Linked DNA regions of Homo sapiens: region 1 is linked to region 2. Evidence: fine-mapped expression QTL. A gene starts in region 2. The other region holds a variant in brackets. All regions are shown on one strand. Distances are from middle to middle.

Region 1 (5,000 bases), 33 kb after region 2:
CTGTGGTCTTTCTCCTGCCAGTAGAATGGAAGCCTCATAAGGGCAGAGATTGTTGTCTGTTCAGTTCATTGATGTTTCCCAGCATCTAGCACAGTGCAGGCACATGGCAGTGCTCAGTAAATGTGCGTGTGTGACTACGGACCTCTGTTCTCTGTGAGCCTCACAGGGTGGCTTCAGCTGGTCAGCCTTCAGGGTCAGTACTGACTGGATGAAAGCAGCTCTCCATCCTCTCCCATCTGCTTCCAGGAGTTTTCACCAAGCCTGTGTCCATTCCTTGGGCTCCCATTTGTACACTGAATAAGAACAATGTTTGCTGTTTTTCCAACCGTCTTGGCAAAACTGAAGTCGTCACCCTCACTTCCCTTTGTTTTGTCCTTCATATTGTTTGACAGCTTTGAGGGTTTGGCTAAGGCAGCAGTTCTGGTGAAAATTGGTGCCTGTTGCCAGGCGCATTGGCGCACGCCTGTAGTCCCAGCACTTTAGGAAGCCGAGGCGGGTGGATCACCTGAGGTCAGGAGTTCACAACCAGCCTGACTAACGTGGTGAAAGCCCATCTCTACTAAATACAAAAAAAAATAGCCAGGCATGGTGGCACATGCCTGTAATCCCAGCTACTTGGGAGGCTGAGACAGGAGAATCTCTTGCACCTGGGAGGCGGAGGTTGCAGTGAGCTGAGATTGCACCATTGTGCTCCAGCCTGGGCAACAAAAGTGAAACTCTGTCTCAAAAAAAAAAAAAAAAGAAATTAAAAAAGAAAGAGGACGGGCACAGTGGCTCACGCCTGTAATCCCAGCACTTTGGGAAGCCAAGGCAGGCGGATCACGAGGTCAGGAGATCGAGACCATCCTGGTCTCTACTAAAAATACAAAAAATTAGCCGGGCATGGTGGTGCGTGCCTATAGTCCCAGCTGCTTGGGAGGGTGAGGCAGGAGAATCACTTGAACCTGGGAGGCAGAGGTTGCAGTGAGCCAAGATTGCACCACTGCATTCCAGTCTGGGGGACAGAGTGAGACTCTGTCTCGAAAAAAAAAAAAAAAAAAGTCTCCGTGTCAAAAAAAAAAAAGGGACCATCTCAAAGTTATCTGTGTTTGAAGAAGGATGTTCTTAAATTTCCCCACGTGTCATGTTCTGCTGACTGCAGCTGTTGGAGTTTACACAATTTTCTTTTTTTTTTTTTTAAAGGTCTGGGGTACATGTGCAGGGTGTGCAGATTTGTTACATAGTATGCCATGGTGGTTTGCTGCACCTGTCAACCCATCACCTAGGTTTTTTTTTTTTTAATTTGAGACGGAATCTTGCTCTGTCACCAGGCTAGAGTGCAGTGGCGCGATCTTGGCTCACTTCAACCTCTGCCTCCTGGGTTCAAGCAATTCTCCTGCCTCAGCCTCCTAAGTAGCTGGGACTACAGATGCATGCCACCATGCCCAGCTAATTTTTATACTTTTTAGTAGATACGGAGTTTCACTACATTGTCCAGGATGGTCTCGATCTCTCTCTTTTTTTTTTTTTTTTTTTTTTTTTGAGACGGAGTCTTGCTCTGTGGCCCAGGCTGGAGTGCAATGGCACGATCTCGGCTCACTGCAACCTCTGCCTCCCGGGTGCAAGCAATTCTCCTGTCTCAGCCTCCTGAGTAGCTGGGATTACAGGCGCCTGCCACCACGCCCGGCTAATTTTTGTATTTTTAGTAGAGATGGGGTTTCATCATGTTGGTCAGGCTGGTCTCGAACTCCTGACCTCATGATCTGCCCACCTCGGACTCCCAAAGTGCTGGGATTACAGGCATGAGCCATCGTGCCCAGCCCTCAGTCTCGATCTCTTGACCTTGTGATCCACCCGCCTCGGCCTCCGAAAGTGCTGGGATTACAGGCACGAGCCACCACGCCCAGCCCATCACCTAAGTATTAAGCCCAGCATGGAATAACTATTTTTCCTAATGCTATCCCTCCCCCCACCCCACCCTCCAAGAGGCCCCACACAATTTTCATTCTGTCTGACATAAGGTCAAATGTTGCAGGTCTGTCTTGTGGCTGGCATTTGCTTAGGACAAAGGAATCACCACAGGAAAAAGCTGAAAAAGAAGTTAAGAGCTTGAGGCCTAGCATGATGCCAATCCATGTTTCAAGTCTGGCCTCTGCCCTCCAGAGGTAACTTCAGGATGGAGAGCTTGCTCTTCCATCCCTGCAGCTTTGTTGACTTCATTGTCAGCAACTGTCAAGGCATTGCCTGATACCGCAGCACCAAGATAGCGTCTGAGAATGACCTGGTGTAGAAAGAACTTGGTGTGGGGACCCTCTGGCCTATAAGCCACTTGGCTCTGTCAGTTGCTGACTGTTGTGGCCTTGTTCCTTTAACTGTTTCCTTTTTTTTTTTTTTTTAAGTAACATTTTTTTTTTTTAGACAGAGTCTCACTCCGTCGTCCAGGCTGGAGTGCAGTGGTGTGATCTCGGCTCACTGCAACCTCTGCCTCCCAGGTTTAAGCGATTCTCCTACCTCAGCCTCCCAAGTAGCTGGGACTACAGGCGTGTGCCACCACGCCCAGCTAATTTTTGTATTTTTAGTGGAGACGGGGTTTCACCACGTTGACCAGGCTGGTCTCAAACTCCTGACCTCAAGTGATCCACCCGCCTCAGCCTCCCAAAGTGCTGGGATTATGGGCGTGAGCCACCACCCCCGGCCAAAGTAACACTTATTTTTATTTATTTATTTTTAGAGATAGAGTCTTGCTCTGTCACC[C/T]AGGCTGGAGTGAAGTGGTGCCATCATGGCTCACTGCAGCCTCAAACTTCTGGGCTCAAGCGATCCTCCTATTTTAGCCTCCTGAGCAGCTGGATTACAGGTGTGCACCTCCACACCCAAGTAATTTTTTATTTTTATTTTTGTAGAGGCAGGGTTTTGCTATGATGCCCAGGCTAGTCTCAAATTCCTAGCCTCAAGCAATCCTCTCACCTCAGCTTCCCAAAGTGCTGGGATTATAGGTGCCTTTCCTTTTTTTCTTGACATTATATTATGCAGATTGGTCCATCAACAGCTACTGAGCTACATCTATTTTTTTTTTTTTTTTTTTTGAGATGAGGTCTCACCCTGTTACATAGGCTGGAGTGCAGTGATGCAATTATGGTTCACTGTAGCCTCAACCTCCTGGGCTCAAGCCATCCTCCCACCTCAGCCTCCTGAGTAGCTGGGACCACAGGCCTGTGCCACTATACCTTGCTAATTTTTTTATTTTGTAGAGATGGGGTCTCCCTGTATTGCCCAGACTGGTCTTGAACCCCTGGGCTCAGGTATCCTCCCACCTCAGCCTCCCAAAGTGCTGGGATGACAGCACTTGGCCTTACATAATTTTTTTTAAGCCTGGATAGCAATCCATTGTAAGGATTCTTGCATTCAACGTGCTTTTATTGAGTGCCAACCAATAAACTTTGCCAGGCATTTCTCTCAGAGCTTGGGACACAGCAGTAGGCAAAATGAGCCTAGTCTTTGTTCTTATCAAGCTGGTGTTCTAGTGGAAAAATTGATAATAAATATATAACATAAAGTTGGGTAGTTATAAATGCAATGCAGAATATCCCACAGCATTATACGAGTATGAGTAAAGGGCAGTGCTATTTAAATTAGAATGAGGCTGGGATTGGCAGCTCATGCCTGTAATCCCAGCATTTTGAGAGGCCAAGGTGGGAGTATTGCTTGAGTGCGGGAGTTTGAGCTGGCAAGATAGTGAGACTCTATCTCTAGAAAAAAAAATTAAAAATTAGTCAAGCATTGTGGAGCATGCCTGTAGTCCCAGCTACTTAGGAGCCTGAGGTGGGAGGATCCATTAAGCCCAGGAGGTCAAGGCTGTAATGAGCCGTGATTACACCACCGCACTCCAGCCTGGGTGACAGAATGAGATTAAAAAAAAAAAAAAGTAAAAAAAGAAAAAATGTGAAATAGAATGGTCGGGGATCCTTTCTGAGGAGGTAAGAGTCAGGCAGAACCCTGAATGAAGCGAAGGGATGAGCTATGTGCAGAGAACTGCAAGGGCAAATGGCCAGGGGTAGAAAGCTGTCTGGCATATTCTAAAAATAGCACAGTAAGCAAGGGAGAGAGCCTAGGGGTTCTAAGAGGAGGCCAGAGCATGCAGGGTGTTGTACAACCTTTGGATTTTACTGTGAGTGAAATAGGAGATAGTAGAGGGTTTTGAGCAGAAAAAATAGCATGGTCTGACCTGAGGTTTTTGTTTGTTGTTTTTGTCATCGTTTGTTTTTGAGACGGAGTCTCGCTCTGTCGCCCAGGCTTGAGTGCAGTGGCAGATCTCGGCTCACGGCAACCTCCACCTGCCAGGCTCAGATGATTCTCCTGCCTCACCCTCCTGGCTAATTTTGTAACAGGCGCCCAGCCTGTTTTTTTTTTTTTTTGAGACAGAGTTGCTCTGTTGCCAGGCTGTAATGCAGTGGTGCCGTCTCTGCTCACTGCACCCTCAGCCTCCCAAGTAGCTGGGACTACAGGCGCATGCCACCACACCCGGCTAATTTTTGTACTTTTAGTAGAGACGGGGTTTTGCCACGTTGGCCAGGCTGGTCTCGAACTACTGACCTCAAGTGATCCACCCCCTCAGCCTCCCAAAGTGCTGGCATTACAGGCATGAGCCACCGTGCCTGGTCTCTCCATGACCTTTCATCCCTACTATCCACATTGCTAAAGAGCTTCCCCTGTATATCTCAGCGTGCTTTTGGGTGCAGCTTGGTTGGGTGAATTCTTGGCAGTGCAATTCTTGACTATCTGCATTTGCCAAATTTTCTCCCAAAAATGCTTAATGTTTCCTGGTAAACTAAGTTAAAATAATAGCTGGGCATGGTGGCTCATGTCTGTAATCCCAGCACTTTGGGAGGCCAAGGTGGGTGGATTGCTTGAGGTCAGGAGTTTGAGACCAGCCTGGGCAACATGGCAAGACCCTGTCCCTACAAAAATTCAAAAAATTAGCTGGGCATCATGGCACACGCCTGTAGTCCCAGCTATGTGGGAGG
Region 2 (5,465 bases):
TACTAAAAATACAAAAAATTAGCCAAGCGTGATAGCGGGCACCTGTAGTCCCAGCTACTCGGGAGGCTGAGGCCGGAGAATGGCGTGAACCCGGGAGGCGGAGCTTGCAGTGAGCCGAGATAGCACCACTGCACTCCAGCCTGGGCGACAGAGAGAGACTCCGTCTCAAAAAAAAAAAAAAAGACTGGAAAAGAAGAGTCACCATATTCCTATAGTATTGGGTGTCAGTTTCAAGTGAATTCCTTTCCTTTTCTGTATTTTCTGTCACATGAGCTAATTCCGTTCCACAAATACAGTATTTATCAAGTGACTCAGCACCAGTCACTGTGGAAGCAGAAATGAAAAGAAATCCAGTGGTTTTCTCCAGGATGTTAAAAACAAAACAAAACTTAAAACAGGTTCATTTTATTTTTTATACCTAAACAGTTGATTTAACACTTAAAGATATGAAGAAATGTAATGCCCTGATGGGGATCTTCTTTTTTTTTTCCCCCAACTATTTATTTATTTATTTTTGAACAGAGTCTTGCTCTGTCGCTCAGGCTGGAGTGCAGTGGTGGGATTTCGGCTCACTGCAATCTCTGCCTACTGGGTTCAAGCGATTTTCCTGCCTCAGCCTCTAGAGTAGCCGGGATTACAGGCATGAACCACCATGCCCGGCTAATTTTTGTATTTTTAGTAGAACCAGGGTTTCACTATGTTGGCTAGGCTGGTCTTGAACTCCGGACCTCAGGTGATCCACCGGCCTCAGCCTCCCAGAGTGCTAGGATTACAGGCATGCGTCACTGCGCCCAGCCCAGATCTTCTTTTTTAACAAGGTTAAAAATATTTAAAAATAAAAATTCCGGGCCAGGTGCAGTGGCTCACGCCTGTAATGCCAGCACTTTGGGAGGCTGACGCAGGTGGATCACTTGAGGTCAGGAGTATGAGACCAGCCTGGCCAATGCGGTGAAAACCCATCTCTAGTAAGAAGACAAAAGTTGGGCCAGGTGCGGTGGCTCGCGCCTGTAAACCCAGCACTTTGGGAGGCCGAGGCAGGCGGATCACCTGAGGTGGGGAGTTCAAGACCAGCCTGACCAACATGGAGAAACCCGTCTCTACTAAAAGTACAAAATTAGCCGGGGTGGTGGCACATGCCTGTAATCCCAGCTACTTGGGAGGCTGAGACAGGAGAATCACTTGAACCCGGGAGGCGGAGGTTGCAGTGAGCCGAGATCTCGCCATTGCACTCCAGCCTGGACAAAAAGAGCAAAACTCCGTTTCCAAAAAAAAAAAAAAAAGACAAAAGTTAGCTGGGTTTGGTGGTGGCCACCTGCATTCCCAGCTATTCGGGAGGCTGAGGCTGGAGAATCACTAGAACCCGGGAAGCAGAAATTGCAGTGAGCCGAGATTGTGCCACTGCACTCCAGCCTGGGTGACAGAGCCAGAATCTGTCTCAAAAAAAAAAAAAAAAAAAATTCTTGCACGGTGAGTAGGGCCTCTGAGTTCCTGTCTGTTTGTCACCCGAAGGTTTATTCTCTTCCAGGTACTCCAAACTCGGACTGTGTCCTGTACACATTCTCAAAGCACCTCCTACTTTTTGGCATCCCTTAATACTTTCACACACACTTGCGTCTGCCCCCTGGGTCAATTCTGACTTCTCAGAGGCCAGGCACTGCATCTGGTTCATCTGGTTGTGTCACTGTGGAATCCCCACCCCCTATCATGTCATGGTATCTGCCTCACAGCAGACCTTCTTTTTTTTTTATGGAGATGTGGTCTTGCTCTGTCGCCCAGGCTGGAGTGCAGTGGCGCCATCTGGGTTCACTGCAGTCTCGATCTCAAGATCTCAAGTGATCCTCTTGCCTCAGCCTCCGAGTAGCTGGGACCACAGGCATGTGCCACTCAATATTTGTTGAATGAATGTATGAATGATATAATGACTGAAGGGGATGGGCTTGGCCTTTGGGTAGAAGACTTTTTTGTTTTTTCTTTGAGACGGAGTTTCGCTCTTGTTGCCCAGGCTGGAGTGCAATGGCGCGATCTCGGCTTACCGCAACCTATGCCTCCCGGGTTCAGGGAATTCTCCTGCCTCAGCCTCCCGAGTAGCTGAGATTACAGACATGCACCACTACGCCCGGCTAATTTTGTATTTTTAGTAGAGACGGAGTTTCTCCATGTTGAGGCTGGTCTCAAACTCCTGACCTCAAGTGATCCGCCCGCCTCAGCCTCCCAAAGTGCTGGGATTACAGGAGTGAGCCACCGCGCCGGGCCGGGTAGAAGACATTTTGTTTATACTTTTACAGAAGGGATTTTCAGGAAAGGGTAGAGGAGAGGAGGAGGGCTGGTGAGGAAGGCCAGCCAAACCCCCCACATTTCCCTGCTCCAGGTTTCTCGGCATTACCTCTTTACCCTCAAGGCTGGACTTAGGGGCTAGGTGAAGCCCTTAGGCTTGGCGTTCAGTTCCTAGATTCTGGGTAGCATGTCTCTATTTTCTCATGTTTCCAGTGGGGATTAGGGTAATATTCACCTGGGAACTGTGAGGAGCCCCTGGGAAGAGAGGGCATGGGGGTTAGAGTGTTTGAGGGGCTGCAGTGATGATCACGGTCTCAGTAACCTCCCCTCACCCACCTCACCACCACCCTCCCTGCCCCGCACAGTCAAAGCCCTCGCACTATTTTGAGGAAACTTTGGTAAGTCAGTTTCTTCCACTCCAGAAGGTCTCAAAGTGTAGTCCCTGGGTGCTTATTGGAAATGCAAATTCTCAGGCTCCACCCTGGCCTTTCGAATCAGATCCTCTGGGGGCGGGGCCCGGCAATACCAGGTGATGCTGGGGTGATGCTGATGCCCTTCCAAGGTTGAGACCTAGTCTCTACTCTGATGTCAGCTCTCCGAGAGACACTCTGGCCTGCTTTGTTCCCTTCCCTGTCCCCAGTGTCTGGCATCGAGTAGGCTGCCATAAATATCTCTGGAGTGCATAGTAACAGTGATGATGATAATAGCAGCTAGCCATTGATTGAAGACCTCTTGTGTGCCGGTCTCTGCGTTAAACATTTCTGGAGGCTTAACTCATTTAAGGAGCTACCCCAGCCATCATTTTCTCAGATGGTGAAACTGAGGTTCAGAGAGGCCAAGCGCCGTACCCAAAGGTCACTCAGCGGGAGAGCTGGCAGGAAACCTCGCGTCTGCCGGTGCCGGCGCCGCCCCTGCCCCTCCCCGGAGCCCGGCGGCCGCGCGTGTCCGCGGCCCTGCGAGGGCTCCCCGGCTCCGGACAGCCCAGGGCGGCCGGGGGAGGAGTGCGCTGCGACGGCCGTGGCGAAAGTGCGGTTGTGGATGCGCGGAGAGGCCGGCAGCGGTGGCAGCGGCAGCGGAGGAGGAAGCTGAGCAGGGCGGCGGCGGCGGTGGAACCTGCGGGGCTGGGGCGCGCGCCATGGGCCGCCTGCACTGCACTGAGGACCCGGTGCCGGAGGCCGTGGGCGGCGACATGCAGCAGCTGAACCAGCTGGGCGCGCAGGTGGGCCCGGCGGCGGGGCGTGGGGCGCGGGGCCCAGGTGATTCCAGGATCCGGGCCTGGGGTGGGGGGGACGTCCGGGGGTGCGCGGGAGTTGGGAGAGACTAGACAGAGCGGCGTCTTGTGGGCGTTTGGGGTGTGTGAGGTGGGTTCGGGGCGAGGCTAAGGTGAGCTGGGGTCTGAGGAGAGTGTGGGGAGCCAAGGGATCTCCGGAGGCCTAAGGGCCACCTGAGGGGTCCGAAAGGCTTTGTGGGGTCTCAGAGATGGGACTACGGGACCTCTGCGGGGTCCTGGGGCCGAGGAGAGCTTTTGGGGTCCTAGAAGAGGGACGGAGGGGAGTCTAGATGAGGCTGAAGGAGTTTGGGGAACTGAAGGAACAGACTAAGGGCGTGGGGAGTTTTGGGGAGCAGTGGGGTCCAAAGGGAGATAGATGTTTGGCAGGGAGGCCGAGGAAGCCTGAGGGGAGTGGGAGGGCCCGAGAATCTGAGGGGGCCCGGGGAAGCTTGGCCTGGGCTGCCGTCTTACATCTCAGTGTGACATGAGTGTCAGTAATAGCCAGGCCCCACTGGGGCTCTGTGGGCCTGAGGGGCTCGATCTGGGACAAGGCTGATGACACCTTCCACCTCCACCCAGTTAAGGAGAGTCACTGGGATTCACATGGAAAGAAACCTTATACACTGTGTACAGTGGGGGTCTTCATCCTCGATGGTAGGGGAGCTAGCAAAGCCTTTTTCTCCCCCTTCAGGCTGCAGGTGCCAACCAAGGCAGTCTTGGAGGCATCCTGCTTCTGTGCTGGTTGGGATGCCTTTTCATACCACCAAGGCTGCTGAAATAGGTGAGAATGACACTTCTCACCCCCACTGGGAAGATACATCTATTTCCCCCGCTAGGTTGTCACTTCCCAGGAGGTAGCGCCCCTCTTCTTTCATCTCCATACCCCCCACAACTTCCCACACAGTAGTGCTGCTTGCGAGATAAAAACCAAACTTAGAACTTGTAACGACAGGAAGGTTCTAAGCTTGAGCTATGCAATAGAAAAATTTGCAAGCCACATTTCTAACTTTGCATTTTGTAGTAGCCACATTTAAAAATTAAATAGAAATGGAAATTAATTTTTTTTTTTTGAGACGTAGTCTCATTCTGTCACCCAGGCTGGAGTGCAGTGGCGCGATCTCGGGTCACTGCAACCTCCGCCTCCCAGGTTCAACCAGTTCTCTGTCTCAGTCTCCCGAGTAACTGGGACTACAGGCACACGCCACCATGCCCAGCTAATTTTTGTATTTTTAGTAGAGATGGGGTTTGACCATGTTGGCCAGGCTGGTCTTGAACACCTGACCTCAGGTGATCTGCCCACCTCAGCCTCCCAGAGTGTTGGGATTACAGGCGTGAGCCACTGTGCCCAGCCCTGAGTTTATCTTATGCAAGCATCCTAGAGTTTATTTACACAAACCTACTGCACCCTAGGATATATGGTATAGCGCATTGCTCCTAGGCTACAAACCTATACAGCATGTGACTGTACTGAATACCATAGGCAACTGGACTATAATGGTAAATATTTGTGTGTTTAGACAAATCTAAATAGAAAAGGTACAGTACAAATACAGTATAAAAGATAAAAAATAGGCCGGGCACGGTGGCTCACACCTACCCTAGGACTTTGGGAGGCCAAGGTGGGCGGATCACAAGGTCAGGAGATCGAGACCATCCTGGCCAACATGATGAAACCCTGTCTCTACTAAAAATACAAAAATTAGCTGGGTGTAGTGGCGGGCACTTGTAGTCCCGGCTACTCTGGAGGCTAAGGCAGGAGAATCGCCTGAACCTGAGAGGTGGAGGTTGCAGTAAGCTGCGATTGCACCACTGCATTCCAGCCTGGGCAATAGAGTGAGACTTCATCTCAAAAAAAAAAAAACAACTTTCTAGTTGGGTACGGTGGCACAGCTACCACAGTAGTCCCAGCTACTTGGGAGGC

Which allele goes with the higher level. Positions count from the first base shown, and alleles are read on the strand shown. Sizes are in standard deviations (SD) of each study's normalised expression.
As copies of C replace T in region 1, the expression in thyroid of the gene that starts at base 3,334 in region 2 goes down (small effect, 0.24 SD a copy in GTEx).

Evidence for each region. PIP is the estimated chance that this variant, and not a neighbour inherited with it, causes the effect. A credible set is the group of variants that fine-mapping cannot tell apart.
Region 1: its variant is the best candidate, but not a certain one, in a credible set for the expression of COMMD7 in thyroid (GTEx, PIP 0.70).

Annotation. Positions count from the first base shown.
Region 1 is chr20:32,708,791-32,713,790 of GRCh38, reverse strand. All of the region lies in intron 3 of COMMD7 (COMM domain containing 7), which reads left to right. Among named protein-coding and RNA genes, the nearest start is that of COMMD7, 32 kb to the left of the region's middle. RefSeq lists a silencer at 2,110-2,404 and an enhancer at 4,423-4,929. The variant C/T (reference allele first, on the strand shown) is at 2,734.
Region 2 is chr20:32,741,336-32,746,800 of GRCh38, reverse strand. It overlaps COMMD7 (COMM domain containing 7), which reads left to right and starts at 3,334. Exons shown (of 9, transcript NM_053041.3): 1 at 3,334-3,493. The coding sequence starts at 3,410. RefSeq lists enhancers at 1,839-2,783, 3,671-4,498, 5,168-5,465 and silencers at 3,079-3,308, 3,489-3,558, 4,543-4,717.